Linked DNA regions of Homo sapiens. The protein of the gene in region 1 interacts with the protein of each later gene in a pairwise test. Each region holds a gene or a part of one and is shown in the gene's direction. Other genes may lie near its edges.

What was found. Proteins that work in one complex are often made in the same cells at the same time.
Region 2: the proteins of ABI2 (region 1) and KNSTRN interact in binary tests that used the Homo sapiens proteins (3 or more experiments, as listed by UniProt).
Region 3: the proteins of ABI2 (region 1) and WASF3 interact in binary tests that used the Homo sapiens proteins (3 or more experiments, as listed by UniProt).
Region 4: the proteins of ABI2 (region 1) and SCGN interact in binary tests that used the Homo sapiens proteins (3 or more experiments, as listed by UniProt).

Annotation. Positions count from the first base shown.
Region 1 is NC_000002.12:203,393,165-203,398,956, forward strand, and holds part of ABI2 (abl interactor 2), read left to right. Parts: intron 1-1,535; coding exon 1,536-1,682; intron 1,683-2,491; coding exon 2,492-2,616; intron 2,617-3,620; coding exon 3,621-3,803; intron 3,804-5,792. UniProt on the Homo sapiens protein: Regulator of actin cytoskeleton dynamics underlying cell motility and adhesion. Functions as a component of the WAVE complex, which activates actin nucleating machinery Arp2/3 to drive lamellipodia formation.
Region 2 is NC_000015.10:40,388,606-40,393,647, forward strand, and holds part of KNSTRN (small kinetochore-associated protein), read left to right. Parts: intron 1-900; coding exon 901-1,006; intron 1,007-1,230; coding exon 1,231-1,324; intron 1,325-2,887; coding exon 2,888-2,949; intron 2,950-3,343; coding exon 3,344-3,418; intron 3,419-4,587; coding exon of another isoform or gene 4,588-4,626; exon of another isoform or gene 4,627-4,863; coding exon 4,864-4,992; 3' UTR 4,993-5,042. UniProt on the Homo sapiens protein: Essential component of the mitotic spindle required for faithful chromosome segregation and progression into anaphase.
Region 3 is NC_000013.11:26,682,568-26,687,609, forward strand, and holds part of WASF3 (actin-binding protein WASF3), read left to right. Parts: intron 1-39; coding exon 40-407; intron 408-948; exon of another isoform or gene 949-1,016; intron 1,017-3,120; coding exon 3,121-3,278; 3' UTR 3,279-5,042. UniProt on the Homo sapiens protein: Downstream effector molecules involved in the transmission of signals from tyrosine kinase receptors and small GTPases to the actin cytoskeleton. Plays a role in the regulation of cell morphology and cytoskeletal organization.
Region 4 is NC_000006.12:25,699,134-25,703,210, forward strand, and holds the end of SCGN (secretagogin), read left to right. Parts: intron 1-2,073; coding exon 2,074-2,202; 3' UTR 2,203-2,650; downstream 2,651-4,077.

The DNA of each region.
Region 1 (5,792 bases):
CTGCTTCAGCCTCCTGAGTAGCTGGGATTACAGGTGTGCGCCACCATTCCCAGCTAATTTTTGTATTTTTAGTAGAGATGGGGTTTTGCCATGTTGGCCAGGCTGGTCTCAAACTCCTGAGCTCAAGTGCTCTGCCTGCCCCGGCCTCCCGAAGTGCTGGGATTACAGGCATGAGCCACTGCACCCGGCTGCAACAAAACATTTTTATTGCCTGGGAAAAATTGTCTGAAAATTAGATGTTGGAGAAATTAATGTTTCCCATTTTATTGTTTAATATTTGCATTATAATTTAAGAGATGCTGGAACTTCCTTTTAGTATTTTAAATCCAAAGTCCTGACATTACTTTTTCCTCTTTTGACCCAAGATTTCATCCAGTGTCCCTTATTTTATTTTTAATTACCAATGTATGTATTTATGTAAGGAGACTTTGAAGGGTAGTAGAGTAAATTGCAAAGTGATCTCATGCAAAATCAGTGATCCATAACTTGAGTGCCCCAGGAAAGCAATAGTTAAAGGAACTCTGGGATCCATACATAAGTCAGTAGAGCAACATCATTTCAGGAAAAGAAAGGTTTTTAATTTTCACATCTTGATCAGTTCTTATTCTTTTAGTGACCAAGATCTCATCTACAATATGTCAATTGACTGTTTATCATTGTCATAAAGAATTTGGAAACCTAAGTAGAAATGAGAACTAATTTAATAAACACTAATTTCCCCATGTGCATCCTGTTCCCTGTCATATTTCCTTTCTTCCTCTTTTCATCCTCTTTACGAGGAAATTTTGGGAAAAGGCGGGAAATATGTGTTAATAAAATCCAGTCTGGTTTGTATTTTACAGTTCAAAGTAAATAATATAGAAAGGCTGTTGTGGTGGTCATTCCCTTCCCCCCACCTTTGTAAATGTTGAACTCTGAGGAAGGAAAGAGAAAAGAGATCAAGGTGAAAGTTGAGGGAGAAAGTGAGAACGGAAGATGAGATTAAAGTGTGTATTTTTGTATATAGATATACTTTAATTTCTGTATATTTGGTATATAGAAAGGGAAATGAGTTGTTATGGCTAGTATTGATCATCAGTGTGGGGGTTATAGATCCTAAATCTAGATTTGTAGTTCCTGTCTTTGAATATCTTTGGTTAGGGAGAGAAGGGAGAGGAGAATAATTAGTGCATTCATGAAGTACAGTTGGGAGACTTTAATATGATACTAAAAGAATTCCAACTCTTCTAAGAAGAGGTAGGGTCTGGGAAACATTGGCTTAAATGGTAGAGAACCTTTGTGCTCTTTGAGAATAAATGAACAAAATTGCATTAGCACAGGGAAATGAGGTTGGAGACTGAAAAATAACAATATTCACCAAAACCCTAATGGTGGAGAAGTGATACATTAGTAAAGACTGAAATTGGTAGCTGGGTTATGTTAAAACACATTTCCTATCTCTGATTACAAATTGTATCTCAACTGCTGGCAACTCTTTGAATTTATTGTGCCGAAACTTGCTTAATCATACAATACATACGCTCTTCTTTTTGTAGGCGGCACTCCCCCTATCGCACACTGGAGCCAGTGCGTCCTCCAGTGGTACCAAATGATTACGTACCTAGCCCAACCCGTAATATGGCTCCCTCGCAGCAGAGCCCTGTGAGGACAGCTTCTGTGAATCAAAGAAATCGAACTTACAGGTATTTTCTCTACCTCAGTGCAAAATGTGATGGTCATAGTACCATAATCTGTTCAGATTACTTCAGGTAAATCTCTCATTTTCCAAGCACTAAGTTCTTTTCCTCACTCTATTCTCCCAAACCTCATCTGATTTCACCTCTCTCTCCTCATGTTCTGATTCAACTTTGAGCAGTCAGGAAGTTGATAAAGAACAGACATCTCAAAGTGCAGACTTCTCTCCAAGTTTTAAGAGTTCAGTTGATCTGGAAAAAAAATTATGGACCAAATGTGGGAAATGTCAGGTTGTTTTTTGGTGGAACTTTACAGATGAAAAACTATACATAATAAAACATTAATATGGGATAGTACATCAGAGTATGATTATTAATTAAAATTACTCAAATCTGTTTAGGAAAATGTTTTTGTTTTATTATAAAAGAAGTTTCTTCAGATAGGCATTAAACTGGAATATAAAAAGGCAATATTTATTGTTTTAATGTGTTAAACCTCAACATTTATCACTTGTATTTATGGATAATTTTTTCAAAATGTGGTCAAAACAAGCTTATTGAACTCAGTTTTCCCCTCAACTTTATTAATAAGTAAATATATATATATATATACACACACACACACACACACACACACACACACACACATTTTTTTTTAACCTGTCACTGACTTGGAGCTCAAGGAAATTTTATTTTGAAGTGGTACGCTTTTGAATTACCTTTATTGTAGCTACATTCATCTCAGAAAATGTCGGGAAGTGCTGATGATCTCTTACTGTTTATAAATACTCATGTTTTGGTGGCTCTTATTTCTTTAGCAGCAGTGGGAGTAGTGGAGGGAGCCACCCAAGTAGTCGGAGCAGCAGTCGAGAGAACAGTGGAAGTGGTAGTGTGGGGGTTCCTATTGCTGTTCCTACTCCATCTCCTCCCAGTGTCTTTCCAGGTAAAACATTCATGGTGCCTCGTCTTCACTTTTCCTTTCTGAATTTGATTCAATTTGTGATTTAATTATGGTGGGCTTTCTTCGTAATCAGGATTTTTTTTCTTTAGGAATCATAAATATTGGGAAGTCTATATATTTGTTATTTGTAAGCAAGTGATTTGTAAGTGTTTGCTCACTTTGCACTTCTCTTTATGCCTTTGGTGATGTGGCTCAGTTGCTGCTTTGAGGTTTCAGATCACACTTTGTTATGAGTACAAGTTTAATTCCAGCTAGTGTTATGACAGTGCAGTCTTTGGACACAGTGGGAACTCAGTGTGAGAACCATATTAGTAACAAAGGATTGGGCAGATATAAAAAGTAGTTTTGACAGTTAAATTTAGTGGCTGTATTGGAATTTAGTAGTCTCTGAAAATACTACCCTCTTTTCTCTGAAACAGAAAAATCTGCTTATTTGATTCGAGGAGATACACACTTAAAACTTAGTTTTGAAAACGTGACACAAAATACATTAATAGAATGTTACATACTTAATTTACTTATAGTAACAAGTAGATAATGCCTTTTAAAAATCATAAAGATTTGTGTTTTAAAAAAAATTTTTAATCTGATAATATGGAATATGTCTATTTTCTGATTTGTGTAATTCAAAATGGAAAACTGTTGTTTTTTAGTGTATTATGTTAGTTTTGTATACTATATACAGAATGTTATGCTAAAAATAACAATACGAAGGGAACACTTTTCTTCTGGAGTAGTGCTTTCAATTGAAAAGGAATGTTTGTTTTTAATGAATTGAAAAAATCTGCACATTACCCTGAGCATCTTGAATTATTTGCTGCTTATATAGTAATCCTTTAGCATAAGTTTTATTCTTTTTTTCAACTCTGTTCTTTTGGTTAGTGTTAAGCACTGAATATCTAACATTAAATACTCTAATACCTTTTCTAATCCTGCCTCATGTGATTGCCTCATTAATGCTGCCTCTTACTCCTCTTTCCCCTCAGCCCCTGCTGGCTCTGCTGGCACTCCTCCCCTTCCTGCTACTTCTGCATCTGCCCCTGCTCCTCTTGTTCCTGCTACTGTCCCTTCCTCCACTGCCCCAGACGCTGCTGCTGGGGGTGCCCAGACCCTTGCTGATGGCTTCACTTCTCCAACTCCCCCTGTTGTTTCTTCCACTCCCCCTACAGGTAAGTATTTGCTTATTCATTGGCAGGCAGATGCAGTCATCTGGCTATTCTCTTACTTGCACCTCTGATTTTTGTTTGTTTTTGGTTTTGTTGTACTTCGTATTAAAAAAAAATAAGAATAATGTACTAACCAGAAAGTATGTGACCAAAGATTAGCATTTCCTGAGAAAATTGAGGTAAAGTTTCTCATACATTTTTCCAATAGGGTAGCATAAATTTGTGTTTTTTTATTGCTTGAATTTCATTTATTAGAGATTTTTAAGTTTAATATGGAGCTACCTTCTATACAGTTTTTGGAAATTATCATTAGAAATATTTTCATTATAGGTTAAGTGATTAACAAAAGTCTATTACAATAATTCTAAGGTATATTTTATAGGAAATATTTGATACAACAAATGGAAAGCCTCTGTAAGTCTATTTTTAACAGAATCTGTTGCTTATTATAGCAGCATTGGAAACTCATAGACAATGGACTTTTAAAGAATTTCAGGTTTATTTAAGTTGGCTGGTGTTTTAAAATTGCAATCTAAAATCTGTTTTGATTGGGGAGGAGATAGACTCAATTGCTACGAAATATATTTGTAGAGTTAATGATGCTGGCTAGTAACAGGTTCTTGTCTGCTATAAAATGTATGTGTTTGGACATATATCACTGTATTAGTCTGTTCTCACATTGCTATAAATACCTGAGACTGGGTAATTTATGCAGAAAAGAGGTTTAATTGGCTAACGGTTCTTCAGGCTGTACAGGAAGCATGATAGTGGCATCTGCTTGGCTTCTGGGGAGGCCTCAGGAAACTTACACTCATGGCCTAAGGCAGAGGGGAAGCACACTGGTCACGTGGCCAGAGTAGGAGCAAGAGGACAAGGCGGGAGGTGCTACACACTTTTAAACAACCAGATCTCATTATTGCAAGAACAGCTCCAAGGGGGATGGTGTTAAACCATGAGAAACCGCCCTTGTGATCCAGTCACCTCCCCCTAGGCCCCACCTCCAACATTGGGGATTACAATTCAACATGAGATTTGGGCAGGGACACAGATTCAAAGCATATCAATCACCGTAGTGTTCCACTTGCCAGTGAAGAACTTCATGGCATTTATATTCAGCTTTGCTGTTATACATGTTAAACATATATAAGATCTTTACATGTTTTAAAAGACACTTTTAGCCAAAATGGATTTTGGGTGATGTCTTGTGGGATTCCTTCTATATGACTTTTAAAGAAAAGCTTTCTGCAGTAGATAAATGTAAACATGGGGTGTTTTTTGATCCAGATACAACTGTTAGGCCAAACTAACTAGTTAAATATAGGAATCTCGTTATGCTCCTGCTTTGATAAAGAATGCATCAGAAAGGACAAATCACCCCCAACTGAGAGTCTATGTTTTAGTAATTAAATATTAATTGAATAACAGGTGCCTGGCTCAGTGTTCACTAAATAAACATTTGTTATGTGAGGGGATAATTAACTGTGGTTTTTAAAACAAAAAGCAAGGTAAATGTCTTATTAATAATTTATATCAGGATAGTCTGTTTTATACAGTACCTGAGTTACCAAGCAATTGTTTTTCTTTTTACCAAGGTATAACTTATGTACAGTAAAATTCACCCTTTATACCATATATGTTTGTGAGTTTTGGCAAAGGTGTACTGACATGTAATTGCCACCACAATCAAGTTACAGAACAGTCCTATCATCGCAAAAATTTCCTCCATGCCCCCTTTATAGTCAGTCCTTCCCTTCCACTCCCAGCTCCTGGTAAGCCCTTGATGTGTTTTTTTTCTCTAAAGTTGTGCCTTTTTAAGTATAACATAAATGAAAGCATATAGTATGTAGCTTTTTTGATCTGTTTTTTTTGGCCAGATGCATTTGAGAATTACCCATGTTGTTGCATGTTTAAGTATTTCATTACATTTTATTGCTTAGTAGTGTTGTATTGTATGGGGATGTACCACAATTTGTTTATCCCTTTCTCAGAGGA
Region 2 (5,042 bases), on another chromosome or scaffold:
AATGGTGTGAACCCAGGAGGTGGAGCTTGCAGTGAGCCGAGACCACGCCACTGCACTCCAGCCTGGGCGACGGAGCGAGACTCCATCTCAAAAAAAAAAAAAAATGCCTTTAAGTGGTTTTCCGCCCTTGGCAGGCCAGGTGTTCCTAGCCCTCATTCCCGTAAACCCACAACCTTCCAGCATGGGCATTAGGGCCTTTATGAACATGTTACAGTGCTGCAGAGATTTTGTTTATGGCCAGTTTTGGGGCCAGTTTATGGCCAGATTTGGGGGGCCTGCTCCCAACAATTGGTGATATTAGAGTTTATTAGATGATAAACTAACATTAGATAATAGCCCAGCTACTGGGCTAAGAAATGCACACGTGTTTTCTCTCTTATTACTCATAATAATAATACTATGAGATGTGGGTATTGTCCTGATTTCAAAAATGAGGAAACAAGGCCTCAGGGAGGTTATGCAACTCACTGAAGGTCATATACCACTGTGTAATAGCCAGGATAGAATGGGACGTGTTTGTGTAACTCTGTAGGCCGTATTTTTCTTTCTTTTTTTTTTAGACGGAGTTTTGCTCTTGTTGCCACCCAGGCTGGAGTGCAATGGCGCAATCTCAGCTCACCACAACCTCCGCCTCCTGGGTTCAAGCGATTATCCTGCCTCAGCCTCCCAAATACCTGGGATTACAGGCATGCGCCACCACGCCTGACTAATCTTTTGTAATTTTAGTAGAGACAGGGTTTCTCTTATCTTGGTCAGGCTGGTCTTGATTTCCCGACCTCAGGTGATCTGCCTGCCTCAGCCTCCCAAAGTGCTGGGATTACAGGCATGAGCTACCGCACCTGGTGTGGGCCATACTGTTAACCCTTTTATCTTTTCATGTAAGTACAACTATTATTACAGCTACAAACCACTGAGTAAGCAAAAATCAGAGGAAGAGCTCAAGGACAAGAACCAGCTGTTAGAAGCCGTCAACAAGCAGTTGCACCAGAAGTTGACTGAAACTCAGGTAAGAGACCCACCAGAGCTCTGTTACCAGCTGCCACTGGGCGATCCACATGGAATCCTGATGGGTGGCCCCTTGGATGAGCAAGCTTGTTAATGCACAGATGCCCAAGGGCAGAAAAAAAAAGCCAGGCTTTTGCTATGGCTGTCCAAGAGCAAGGGCAAGAAAGGGCAACCACCCCTAGGGAGTTGGACAATTCCTGATCTGTCTGTGCTGTGCTCCAATAGGGAGAGCTGAAGGACCTGACCCAGAAGGTAGAGCTGCTGGAGAAGTTTCGGGACAACTGTTTGGCAATTTTGGAGAGCAAGGGCCTTGATCCAGGTAAGAGACAGCACACAGCTAGCCTCCTTTGAAGGAATTGGTGCATGTGCCCCTTCCGGGGTTGATCTTGGCAGCATGGCATCAGCTGGCCCAGTATGTGCAGGGGTTACTTTCATAAAGCCCTAAAGATTTTGGAAAGCTTCTGTTTGTTTTCATGTGATGTTGATTTTTGCCTGGCCAATAGGATTTCAGATGATTATAGAGAGAGGGTTATCTCTTTCTTACCTGAACACTTTATGCCATTCATTTAGTGCCAACAGGTATGACCTTGCAAATAGATGAGAAACACTTTGTTCCTTTCAAGGGAGAACATTTTCTGTCTCTTCCTATTTGGGAAAGTTACTAGTGTGCTTGAAAGGAACATTTTGTTTGAACATGCTCTTCCTTTCAAGCATACTAGTAATCCCAAATGGGAAGAGAAAGAAAATACTATTTCAAGCATTCTTAAACCTGGTTAATCATCAGAATTACAGTGACTAAAATATGACTACTATTCTGACCCTGTCCCCCAGAAAGCAGTATCTGTAGCAAAGAGAGCAGAAGAAGGAATTGCCCAAAGACTGTAAGAGGGCCTCAGACTGAGTCAAAGAGCCAGAGAATGCCCAGGAAAGGGGCCCAGGCCTTTTTGTATTAAGGAATACTGACTTTGAATGTTACTGGTTAATCTTTAGGTTACAGTTGAGGATATTCTTTTTTTTTTTTTGAGATGAAGTCTCATTCCATTGCCCAAGCTGAAGTGCAGAGGTGTGATTTCGGCTCACTGAAACCTCCTCCTCCTGGGTTCAAGTGATTCTCCTGCCTCAGCCTCCTGAGTAGCTGGGATTACAGGCGTGTACCACCACACCCAGCTAATTTTTGTATTTTTAGTAGAGATGGGGTTTTGCCATGTTGGTCAGGCTGGTCTCAAACTCCTGACCTCAAGTGATCTGCCTGTCTCGGCCTCCCAGAGTGCTGGGTTTACAGACATGAGTTACCATGCCCAGCCTAGGATATTCTTTATAGTCACCATAAATATATATGTTTTTAAATTTAAAATTGTTTATTTTTTTGAGATGGGATCTCGCTATGTTGCCCAGGCTGGCCTCCAACTCCTGGGCTCAAGCAATCCTCCCAAATAGCTGGGACTACAGGTGTGCACCACCACATCCGACACCATAAATATTTTGTATGATTTTAGTTTATTACATGCATGTGATATTACCGAAAGTAATAATTTTTTAAGGCCTGAAAGGCTCTTAAAAATAGCTTTGTGAATTGTGAACAAAACCAAAAAAAATCCAACCTATACATTTCCTTTGGACAAATTGTCCACTGACCTAAGGAGAAAGTATACCGAATTTTTGGCCATATCAAAACCTAGATTGAAAGGAGATAAAATACAGTTTTGCAGGGCAGATATGGGTGACCCTGCCAAGGTGAAAACTTAGGAGAAAGTCCAGGATGAGACACTTAAGAGAAATTCCCCTCATGAATATTTCTGTACTTGTCCACGGAGGGTTTTTATTTTCTTTTGTTTAGGGTGTGTAGTTCCCTAAGTGAGATTGACTTTGTTGTATCCATCAGCTTTAGGCAGTGAGACCCTGGCATCACGACAAGAATCCACTACTGATCACATGGACTCTATGGTGAGGGCATGGGTGTGAAAGGGCGCAAGGGCTGAGTGACTGTGGGGCTCTGTAAATCTAAGAAGGTCTCTGCTATATATTCCATAAACTCCAAGAAACAGCCTTTGATTATCTGTGATGCTAGAAAAGAGAAATGGGATGTGTACTCAAAATAGCATATTTTACTTGAAAGGTAGCTTTGTGCTTACAAATATAAGTGAGTCTGAATTGAAAATTTAAAACACATAATAGGTAAACCTGTAGAGAGAGCTTTCTCGTTCTTCTGTTCTATACTTTATCAAATTTCTCTCCTGACTCCTTTGTTGAGAACTGTGTGGAAAGGATGTTAGCCATCATCTAATGCAAGTCTGGTTTTATATGAAGATTTGTTTACTACATTGTGCTTTCCTCTTAGTTGCTGTTAGAAACTTTGCAAGAGGAGCTGAAGCTTTTTAACGAAACAGCCAAAAAGCAGATGGAGGAGTTACAGGTGAGAGGCAGACATCACCCTGACCATTTCCTACCATGATAGGTAGATTTATAGTGGGGTCTTTTCTGTTTTTCTATTTATTTTTAATAAACTTTCTAAATAATTTTAGATTTATAGGAAAGTTACAAAGATAATACAGAAAATTTACCCTGATAGTAACGTGTTTTTTTTTTTCCAACTTTTAAGTTCAGGGGTACACGTACAGGGTGTGTAGGCTTGTTACACAGGTAAACGTGTGCCATGGTGGTTAGCTGCACAGATCATCCCATCACCTAGGTATTGAGCCCAGCATCCATTAGCTATTCTTCTTGATGCACTTCCTCCTCCACCCCCAATAGTAACATCTTACATTATCCTGGTACATTTGTCAAAACTAAGAAATCAGCCAGGCATGGTGGCTCACGCCTATAATCCCAGCACTTTGGGAGGCTGAGGTGGAAGGATTACTTGAAGCCAGGAGTTTGAGACCAGCCTGGGAAACATAACAAGACCCCATCTCTACAAAATAAAATTTAGAAAATAGCCAGGCGTGGTGGTACATACCTGTAGTCCCAGCTGCTCAGGAGGCTGAGGCAAGAAGACCACTTGGGCCCAGGAGGGCAAGGAGATAAAGTCTCACTGTTGTCCCCCAGGCTGGAGTGCAATGGCGTGATCTCGGCTCACTGCAACCTCCGCCTCCCGGGTTCAAGCGATTTTCTTGCCTCAGTCTCCCAAGTAGCTGGGATTACAGGCATTTGCGACCATGACCGGCTAATTTTTATATTTTTAGTAGAGACAGGGTTTCACTGTGTTGGCCAGGCTGGTTTCGAACTCCTGACCTCAGGTGATCTGCCCGCCTAGGCTTCCCAAAGTGCTGAGATTGCAGGTGTGAGCCACTGCACCCGGCAGGAAAAAAATTTTTTAAAAAACAGACCAACATCAGTACATTACTATTAACTATATTCCAAGTCTTCATTTGGATTTTAGCAGTTTTTTCCACTAATTTTTTTTTTTCTGTTACCGAGGCTTCTTGCAAATGTTCACATCACCAAGGCATGAGGCAATGTGTAACACAGTAGGTTGCTCAGAGTTGGGAATTGAGAACTATATGTAATCCATTCTATGGAAACTTGATAACTCAAGGAGAAGACCTGTAGTAAGCACAGATTCTTTGGTCTGGACTGTTTCAGATTGCTTGGATGAATCATGGGATATTGCACCAAATGTAGAGGATTTCATCGTTCCAGTTTAGATACAGGAGTCTAGTCCCTCTCTACTACTAGAGGGACAATTCCTAAAACCAGTGCATAGAAATAAAATCTAAAATAGAAGATACAGTCTGTTGATACTCCAGTGGTCTTCCTTAGTGGAATAGGAGCATAATGTTCTGATGTGGGAATTGTGTTTCCTGTTAGTCAAGAGTTTTGTGTATGTGTTGTTTTCTTTTGGAATGTCTTTCCATGCAGGCCTTAAAGGTAAAGCTGGAGATGAAAGAGGAAAGAGTCCGATTCCTAGAACAGCAAACCTTATGTAACAATCAAGTAAATGATTTAACAACAGCCCTTAAGGAAATGGAGCAGCTATTAGAAATGTAAGAAGAAGCAAGTGGCCAGATGGCTCCCTCTTGGGCATAAAATCTCAGAGG
Region 3 (5,042 bases), on another chromosome or scaffold:
TTGTTCCCTTGGTGACTATGTGCCTCATATCTCTCTCAGGATGCTCCCAGCGCAGATAATTGAGTATTACAACCCATCCGGACCACCTCCTCCGCCACCTCCTCCTGTGATTCCCTCAGCACAAACTGCCTTCGTCAGCCCTCTCCAGATGCCCATGCAGCCCCCGTTCCCTGCATCAGCCAGCTCCACGCACGCAGCTCCTCCTCACCCACCCTCCACCGGGCTCCTGGTCACAGCCCCGCCACCCCCGGGCCCACCACCTCCCCCGCCAGGCCCTCCTGGTCCCGGGTCTTCTCTTTCGTCCTCCCCAATGCATGGCCCCCCAGTAGCTGAGGCGAAGCGGCAAGAGCCTGCACAGCCACCAATCAGTGATGCTCGAAGCGACCTCCTCGCTGCTATTCGAATGGGTAAGTGGAGCCCCCAGACACACAGCCTGCCTTTCAGCAAGAGGTTTCTTCATGTCTCCAGCCAGCTACAGCCTCCTTGTCTTCAAATGACTACTCACTACGTTTTTTAAAATAGAGTTAAAGGGGTCTTACTTGATTTTTTTGTTTTGTTTTGAATAGTAGTTGTGTTTTTGTCCAGTGTAAGGTAATCAAATTGTGATAAAGATTGGGAAACAGCCGGGCGCGGTGGGCTCATGCCTGTAATCCCAGCACTTTGGGAGGCCAAGGCAGTTGGATTGCTTGAGCCCAGGAGTTTGAGAGCAGCCTGGGCAACATGGCAAAACTCTATCCCTACAAAAAATGCAAAAAAAAATTAGCTGAGCATGTTGGCCTGAGCCTGTAGTCCCAGCTACTCAGGAGGCTGAGGTGGGAGGATTGCTTGAGTGTGGGAGGTCAAGGCTGCAGTGAGCCGTGGTCACGCCCCTGCACTCCAGCCTAGGCGACAGAGCGAGACCCGTCTCAAAAAAAAAAAAAGAATTGAAATTAGGAAGTTTTTACTTACCTTGAAACCAGAAACCCAATAACTGAAGTGATCGATTAATTAATTGGATCTCTTCTCTGCATTCTGCTCTAAGGGGAAAAGTATAAATGAAAGAAAGTGAGCTCATATTAATGATTTCTTTAAAAAAAAAAAAGAGTTTGTGCTGGACTTGTCATATTTGCTTGATGTCCTAAGCCAGTGGTTTTTCAGAATCTATAATATTCAACAGCATAACCCTTTTGTCAGATGAAAGTCCCGCGTTGACCCCCTGACCACAAAACACATGGAAACAGAGCATCTCAGGTGGAATTGGGTGGGGAGTCTGCCCTCGCCTGTCTTGGGCTGCCCAGAGAGCCCCTGGGAACCTCCAGCCCACACCATGGATTCTTAACCAGGTCCCAACCCAGGTTGGTCGAGGGTCCCTGACATGTTATGGGAATATCCAAGAGCTTCTCGCCTGTGGGGAGCTGCACAGACTTGGTCACAGTTTAGTCATCTCATCTGGAAGTGACCAAGCAAGGAGCCTGGCTGCAGCCCGCCAGCTCAGCATCAGGGATGTCCTTCAGAGGAGCTGTGATGCTGCTGCCTCTGCGTTTTTCTTGTGTGCCCATGAACCAGGCCCACAGTGTGGCCCACGCACCCTTCTAAAGACCCCAGGGTCCTCTGTGTACCTGGACATCATTGACACACTTTTATTTTGTCAAGATAAAAAAGTCCTAGAGGTATATTAGCTCATGAATATCAAGTTCGGGGTCATTGTAGGACGGTGTTGGATTTGCCTTTTTTTTTTTTAACACCTTATAAGCCCTGTCTACCAAGAGTAGATACATAATCTGTATCTAATCTCGAGGAAACATCTGATACACCCAAATCGACAGACATTCTGCAAAATAGCTTCCTATATTCTTCAAAAACGAGAAGGTTGTAAAACACAAAGACTGTGAAGAACTATCCAGATTAAAGGACATTAACAAAATTGACAACCAATGTCACGGATAATTTCCACTGGATTCTGAACCAGGGGATAATCTTTTCCATTTGCAATTAGATTGGGTCTTTTTGCAAAATTTGAATAATATTTGTAGGATAGATAGTAGTAGTGTATCCAAACTAATTTTGTGATTTTGATATTTTGGGTGGGCGAGGCGGGGGCGGTAACACATGAACTATTTTAGGGGTAAAGGGACATTATATGCCATTCACTCTCAAATGGTCCAGAGAAAAGTGTCTGTGTCTGTCTGTGTAAAGATGATAGGGGAAGATTGGGAAATAAATGTGGTCAGATGTTAGCAGTTGGGGAATCCAAGTATATGGGAATGTTTTTCTGCTGGTCTCATAGCTGTTCTGTAAATCTGAAATTATTTCAAAACAGTTAAAAAATGAATGGATACCATCTTGGGCAACATTGCAAGACTCTATCTCTACAAAAAAGAAAATACAAAATTTAACCGTGCATGGTGGCGTGCGCCGGTGGTTCCAGCTACTCAGGAGGCTGAGGTGGGAGGATTGCTTGAGCCCAGGAGGTCGAGGCTGCAGTGAGCCATGATCGTAACACTGCACTCCAGCCTGGGTCACAGAGTGAGACCCAATCTCAAAAAAAAAAAAAAAAATGGATAAACATTAAATCATCAAATATCTTACTTTGTTACTAAGCTAGAAAGTAGATGATTGTATTTTATGTTTGTTTCCACAGTAATTGTTGAAATAAAGGTTTCTCAGTTACTTCTTGGGTTAGCTGAGAGTGAGTAGCATAGAACACTGTTTCCAAGGCTCTGGATGCTGTTGCTGCCTAGTAGATGTCCTGTGGTGATAGAAATGCTCCAGCCTGCAGCGTCCCAGAGAGTAGCCACTAGCCACATGTCAGTTCATGCTTTTAAGGCTATATGTGCCTAGTGGCTGCTGTCTGGGATGGTGCAGCTCCACAGTTTTCTCTAATGGTGTTCAGGTACACTGAAATTAGGAATTTTTAATATTTTAACACATTACTTTGTTACAAAAAAACTTCTCACTTTGAATGCATGTTTTTTCTCATGAAACTTTTAATATTCCCTGAGCTTTTCTCCCCTCAAATTTCTAAAACTTTCTGTCCTTAGTGTCAGTAGAAAAAAAAGTCCAATAGACATATTTGTTCGTTTATCTTTAATTTGGAGCCAGCAAAAGGATGTGATTCTGAACCACGTGTTGTGTCTGCAGGAATTCAACTGAAAAAGGTGCAGGAGCAGCGGGAGCAGGAGGCCAAGCGGGAGCCAGTGGGGAATGACGTGGCCACGATCCTGTCCCGGCGCATTGCCGTGGAGTACAGCGACTCTGACGACGACTCAGAGTTCGACGAGAACGACTGGTCCGACTGAGCAAAGGCCGGCGGAGAGGCCGCGTGTGGGAGCGTGTTGAAGATTTTAAGTGGTCTCTACACCCAAATAGTGGTATTCTAATCCCGTAGCATAGCACCTTTTGTATAAACAATGTGATATTGCTTCTGCACATCCAAAAATTCTGGGTCTTTTCAGTATTTACTGTGTAATACTTAAGTGCCACTAAACATAGCAAATTGTGCTGCACATGAGGAAATAGGCTGTCACTATCACATTGTCCTGAAAACAGCATCTGCTTTCCTCTTGGCCATGAGAGTATTTAGTGCAGTTTGGGTTTACTCTTACTGATCAATATAACTCTGCAGACTTGCTGTGTGTTTGTGAAGCTGCCTGGTGTTAGGTCTCTGCAAGACTAATGACTATGTCAGAGTGATGTCTTCCAACCAGTAAGTGATATTGTTTCACCGCTTTGGTTTTTCCTTTTGTTTTTTTAAAGGATGTGTTTCTGAATAAGTTGGTTTTAGAGGGAAAGGTTCAACAAACAGGGAGAATCCAGTGTTTCTGCTTTCAGTTTCTTGGCTTGGTAGCCTCTGAGTGAATCTGATGCTCTGCTGAATAATTTCATTACCTCTGCACATGCCTGTCAAATATGAAATTGGAAGGGCCCTTTTCAGGCTGGGTTCCCTGTGGGCATTTGCTTAGTAAATGCCTGTTGATGGTTTTTGCAAGAGAATTCAGCAGCTCAACAGTAATGAAAGTGAAGAACAGAGTCCATTTTCCTTCCTGGGGCCATTGGGGATGACACTCAAGATACTTGCCAGTCTCTCCAGTGTGGGCACCAGCCGGCCAGAACAGATGCGAGCAGTCCATGACTCTGGGAGCTACACCGCTGAGCTGGGCAGAGCTGCGGCACAGGGCCTGGGCTGCAAAGGAGCCCTGCTCCTTTAGTTTCCTGACACCTGTGTCCTGAGTGAGCCGCAGGAGTTCTTAGCTCCTCAGCGAGCAACAGAGAGCACTTTAGATGGCACCTTTCACCACTTGGTCAGAATTTTAAAAGCTTAGGTTTAGGTGAAAGTAGATATTGACAGCTATTCACCTTTCACGGTGCTGGGGCCAGATTAGGGATCACTCCCGTGAGGAGGGCCTTCACCCTGTTCTAGAAGCACATGGTTGTCCTCCTGTTGTTGGCACATTAAATGATAAAAAGCACCTCATGAGATTCCCTTGATCAGCCCTGCAGCTGTAGTACAGTGCTGTGCCCTCACCTCCACCCTTCCTGTTGTTCCCACGTGGGCAATACCAGGGACCCATGGGGAAACTCAAGAATGACAGCTTCTATATTTTGTAATTCTGGATGAAAGATAACTGTGTTGAACAAACAGGTGCTCCAGGCTTTGATTATAGATACGACTTCAAAAATATGCTAAGACGCTTGACTTATTAAGGACTTTAACCTACTCAACAGTATTTCATATCCATTGTGGTTAGTTACTCAGTTATGTTGAGAAGAATCTGGAGCTAAAAGCAGAGATGTTTGAGGTGACGGTAGGAATGTGAGCAGGATGGTGATGGGGGTTTTTGTTAAAATGCATCTGAGCAAGTCAGCCAGCCCCGAAGTCCCCTCAGTGTGTGTGTCTCGAGTGGCTACCTGTTGGGCTTGTGGGCAGTGATTGTACAGAGCCTGTCCATTGGGTGCAGTCATGTAGATCTGAAGCCCTGAAAAGCCTCATGTCTGCATCCCCTTTCCAAGGCTGCTTCCCTGGTGTGTCTGTTCTCTCCTCTGTCCCAGGTGCTGGGAGCGTC
Region 4 (4,077 bases), on another chromosome or scaffold:
TCTCTATTCACTCATAAAACTACTCCAGTAATCAAGGGGCTTGGAAATTTGACTAAATTTGTTTTTTGTTTTTCTCTCTGTACATTGACTTTTAAATTTAGATTTGTGAACAGAAGTTTTCTGAAAAGGAATTTGGTGGAAAGGCTTTATTCCCGTTAATAGTTTGAAAACGGGACTGGGCACAATGGCTCAGGACTCTAATCCCAGCACTTTGGGAGGCCGAGGCAGGTGTGTCATCTCAGGTCAGGAGTTTGAGATCAGCCTGGCCAACATGGTGAAACCCTGTCTCTACTGAAAAAATACAAAATTAGCCGGGTGTGGTGGTGGGCACCTGTAATCCCAGCTACTTGGGAGGGTGAGGCTGGAGAGTTGCTTGAACCTGGGAGGCGGAGGTTGCAATGAGCTGAGATGGCACCACTGCACTCCAGCTTGGTGACAAGACTGAAACTCTGTCTCAAAAAAAAAAAAAAAAAAAAAGAAAAGAAAATGGGAAAATGGAGGACACACTTTTCAGTGTAAACCAGGGTGCAGAGAACAAAAGGGGGTTTGGATTTTACAAAGTCAGTGCCCACCCATGTTGCCAGTTAGTTCTGTTTGTGCAAATAAAGGATTCAAACTTGCTTAGTTCTGATTGGTTATTGGAGCCAAGTTCTGATTGGTCAATAGAGCTGAGTCCTGATTGGTTAATTTAACTGAGTTCTGATTGGTTGGTTCGGGTGAGCTCTGAAAGCCCTAAAAAGAAAAAGGTGCTGGTTTTCAGGGTACTTGAGTAAGCTGTCATCTCTAGTCAAAAAAGGGCCACTTGGATCTATTTTAAATTTAGGGCCAGTGGCCGGGCACGGTGGCTCACTCCTGTAATCCTAGCACTTTGGGAGGCCAAGGTGGGCGGATCACCAGGGGTCAGGAGTTTAAGACCAGCCTGGCCAACAGGATGAAACCCTATCTCTACTAAAATACAAAAATTAGCCGGGCATGATGGCGGGTGACTGTAAGCCCAGCCACTCGGGAAGCTGAGATGGGAGAATCGCTTGAACCCGGGAGACGGTAGTTGCAGTGAGCCGAGATCACTGCCACTGCACTCCAGCAGGGACGGCTGCGACTTCGTCTCAAAAAAAAAAAAAAAAAAAAATTTTGGGCCAGTAAACCACGTGAGATCCATTTTGAAGGATGGGCTCTTTGATTTTGACGTTTATTCACAGATGCATCAGCACACATGTAGTTTCATTAGACCAGCCTTTTCTCCATGAGAATGGTATGAAATTTTGCAATGAGCACTCAATTGGAATCAGAGGACTATTGAGGACTGTCTCCAATTGTCAGAGGACTGTTGGACTATTCTTGGGCTCAAAAATGCTGCCACAACTTTCCAGCTTGGCAGGAAGCTTAAGCTTTCTCTGCACCTCTGTTTCCTAATTTGTAAAAGAGGTGGAATTATTTACTTCCCAGCATTATTGTGAAGCTTACATGAAATAACCTATGGAGAATCAATTTGTTAAAGCATTCCTCACTTTTGCAGGCCTTTGAGCTTGAAGTAAAAAACTTTTCCTAGCTAACATGTGTCACGTTTCTAGCTAACATTCTTTCTTGCCCCCTAACATATCCCTTGGAGTAAATATTACATCCCTAGCTCAACCACATGTTTTAAATTTACATTCAGTATAACCATTTTTTTTTAAACCAGAGGCACAAAAATCTCCTACAAGGAGATAATGAAATGTGTCTTCTCTCATCAGTGCAGCAAGGCAGAAATTTATGATCATAATTGCCTACTTTGCGGCAAAGTATCTTTACTATGGTTGCTAATAAGGCAGTCTTTTTCTAAGAACTGCAGGGAAGTGATGTGGAAGTAAAGGTTTTTTGGCCTGAAGGGACATGCTGAGAAATGAAGCTGTTGGCAGAAAACTTATCCTTGGCAGCATTTGGTGGGATGAGGCGATAGACTCATTCCCTCACTCCCTGTGGCCTGTCTCCTTCAAGGCAGGACACCCTAAGCTTAGGGAGCATCAGAGAGGGTGTTAAAGGGTGAGAACACCATTGGCTTGCCTGTTAACATGTTACTTTTGTCGCCCTCAGCCCAGCATCAGCGGGGTGGACCTTGATAAGTTCCGCGAGATTCTCCTGCGTCACTGCGACGTGAACAAGGATGGAAAAATTCAGAAGTCTGAGCTGGCTTTGTGTCTTGGGCTGAAAATCAACCCATAATCCCAGACTGCTTTGCCTTTTGCTCTTACTATGTTTCTGTGATCTTGCTGGTAGAATTGTATCTGTGCATTGATGTTGGGAACACAGTGGGCAAACTCACAAATGGTGTGCTATTCTTGGGCAAGAACAGGGACGCTAGGGCCTTCCTTCCACCGGCGTGATCTATCCCTGTCTCACTGAAAGCCCCTGTGTAGTGTCTGTGTTGTTTTCCCTTGACCCTGGGCTTTCCTATCCTCCCAAAGACTCAGCTCCCCTGTTAGATGGCTCTGCCTGTCCTTCCCCAGTCACCAGGGTGGGGGGGACAGGGGCAGCTGAGTGCATTCATTTTGTGCTTTTCTTGTGGGCTTTCTGCTTAGTCTGAAAGGTGTGTGGCATTCATGGCAATCCTGTAACTTCAACATAGATTTTTTTGTGTGTGTGGAAATAAATCTGCAATTGGAAACAAAAATGTACTGGTAATTGCTTTTGTCTTGTGACCTTTGAAATGTTCTACCTGATGGTTTGACTAACAAACCCCTTATCTAATGGGGATCGGGGGAATGGTGGAGAAGGAGAGTGAAGGGCAATATCTTAAAAGAAATCCACACCACCAATCCTTCTATAGTCCTCACATGCCCTCACTAGGGCTGACTTCCTGGTGAGCTGGCATTAAAGTGAGAGCTGCCAATAATCACTTTTTATTGGAAGGAGGAGACCAGAACACTCATCCTGGACTGGGGTTTGTTCTTAAGTGCTTGGTGAGCTCACATGGCTAGGCAGGTAGATATAGAGAAGAAGTATGAAGAAAATGTTTCCCAAGTAACCCGGGCTCCCCTCTCCATCCCTTCCTTTTCCAACAGTGCTCCCCAGCAAATCTGGGACCACGACAGCCTTCTTCTAGGTACGTGAGTGCCTCTCATGGGTGCCTCTGCATGCTCCTGGCCCCAACATGTGCCCTGCTCTCTTCTCTCCTGGAACTCTGATGCCATCCCCATGGAAAGGAGACTGTTGGGGCAAGGGGAGAGTTTCTGCAGGGTAGGCCCCACTTTCCTTTACTGTCTTCATCCTTTATTCTTCATAACACCCCTACCTTATACTAGACTGTGTAGTAATTTCAGGCTTAGTGAAGTGTTACAGATAATTCAGAAAAATTAGTGTAGAACAGTGTATTTAGAGCTGTTCATAACCCACGAATTCTGTTTACAGGGGTTCCCTTCATTGCACACCGTCGTCCTAACCTGATTTTCTTCCCTTCATGTCACCCTTACCTCCAACATATAGATAATTCATATTAAGAACTGCTATTTACTAAGTGCTTTCTATGTGCCAAGTACTTCTAGGTGCTTTCCATACCTTAAGTAATTTAATCTTCACCAAATCCCTGTGAGATAGGTACTATCATGATACTCATCTTAGAGATGAAGAAACCAAGGTAGATAGAAGCTAAACAATATGTTCGTTATCATAGCTCTTAGAAGTGGGAAGTCAGGGAGTCTGACGCTGGAACCACGTGCTCCTAACCACCACTTTATTTTTTAATTTTTTTTTTTTTTTTTTTTTTGAGATGGGCTTTCGCCATGTTGCCCAGGCTGGTCTCAAACTCCTGGGCTCAAGTGATCCACTCGCCTCAGCTTCTGAAAGTGCTGGGATGACAGGCATGAACCACCATGCCCGGCCAACAACCACTTAATTACAGACAATTTTCACGTACCTTTCAGGAAGCCTTGGCCCCTTCCTGCAGGTTCTTTCTCACAGTGGGATCCGCCACACCTCCCAGAAGAACAATTCTCCAAGTCCGGGTCATTCAACCTGGAGTACACTTTGTAGGAGCTTAAAGAGAGTTCAGGAAGCACCACAGGGTGAACCACACATGCCAGATTCTTCTGTTGATTGTCC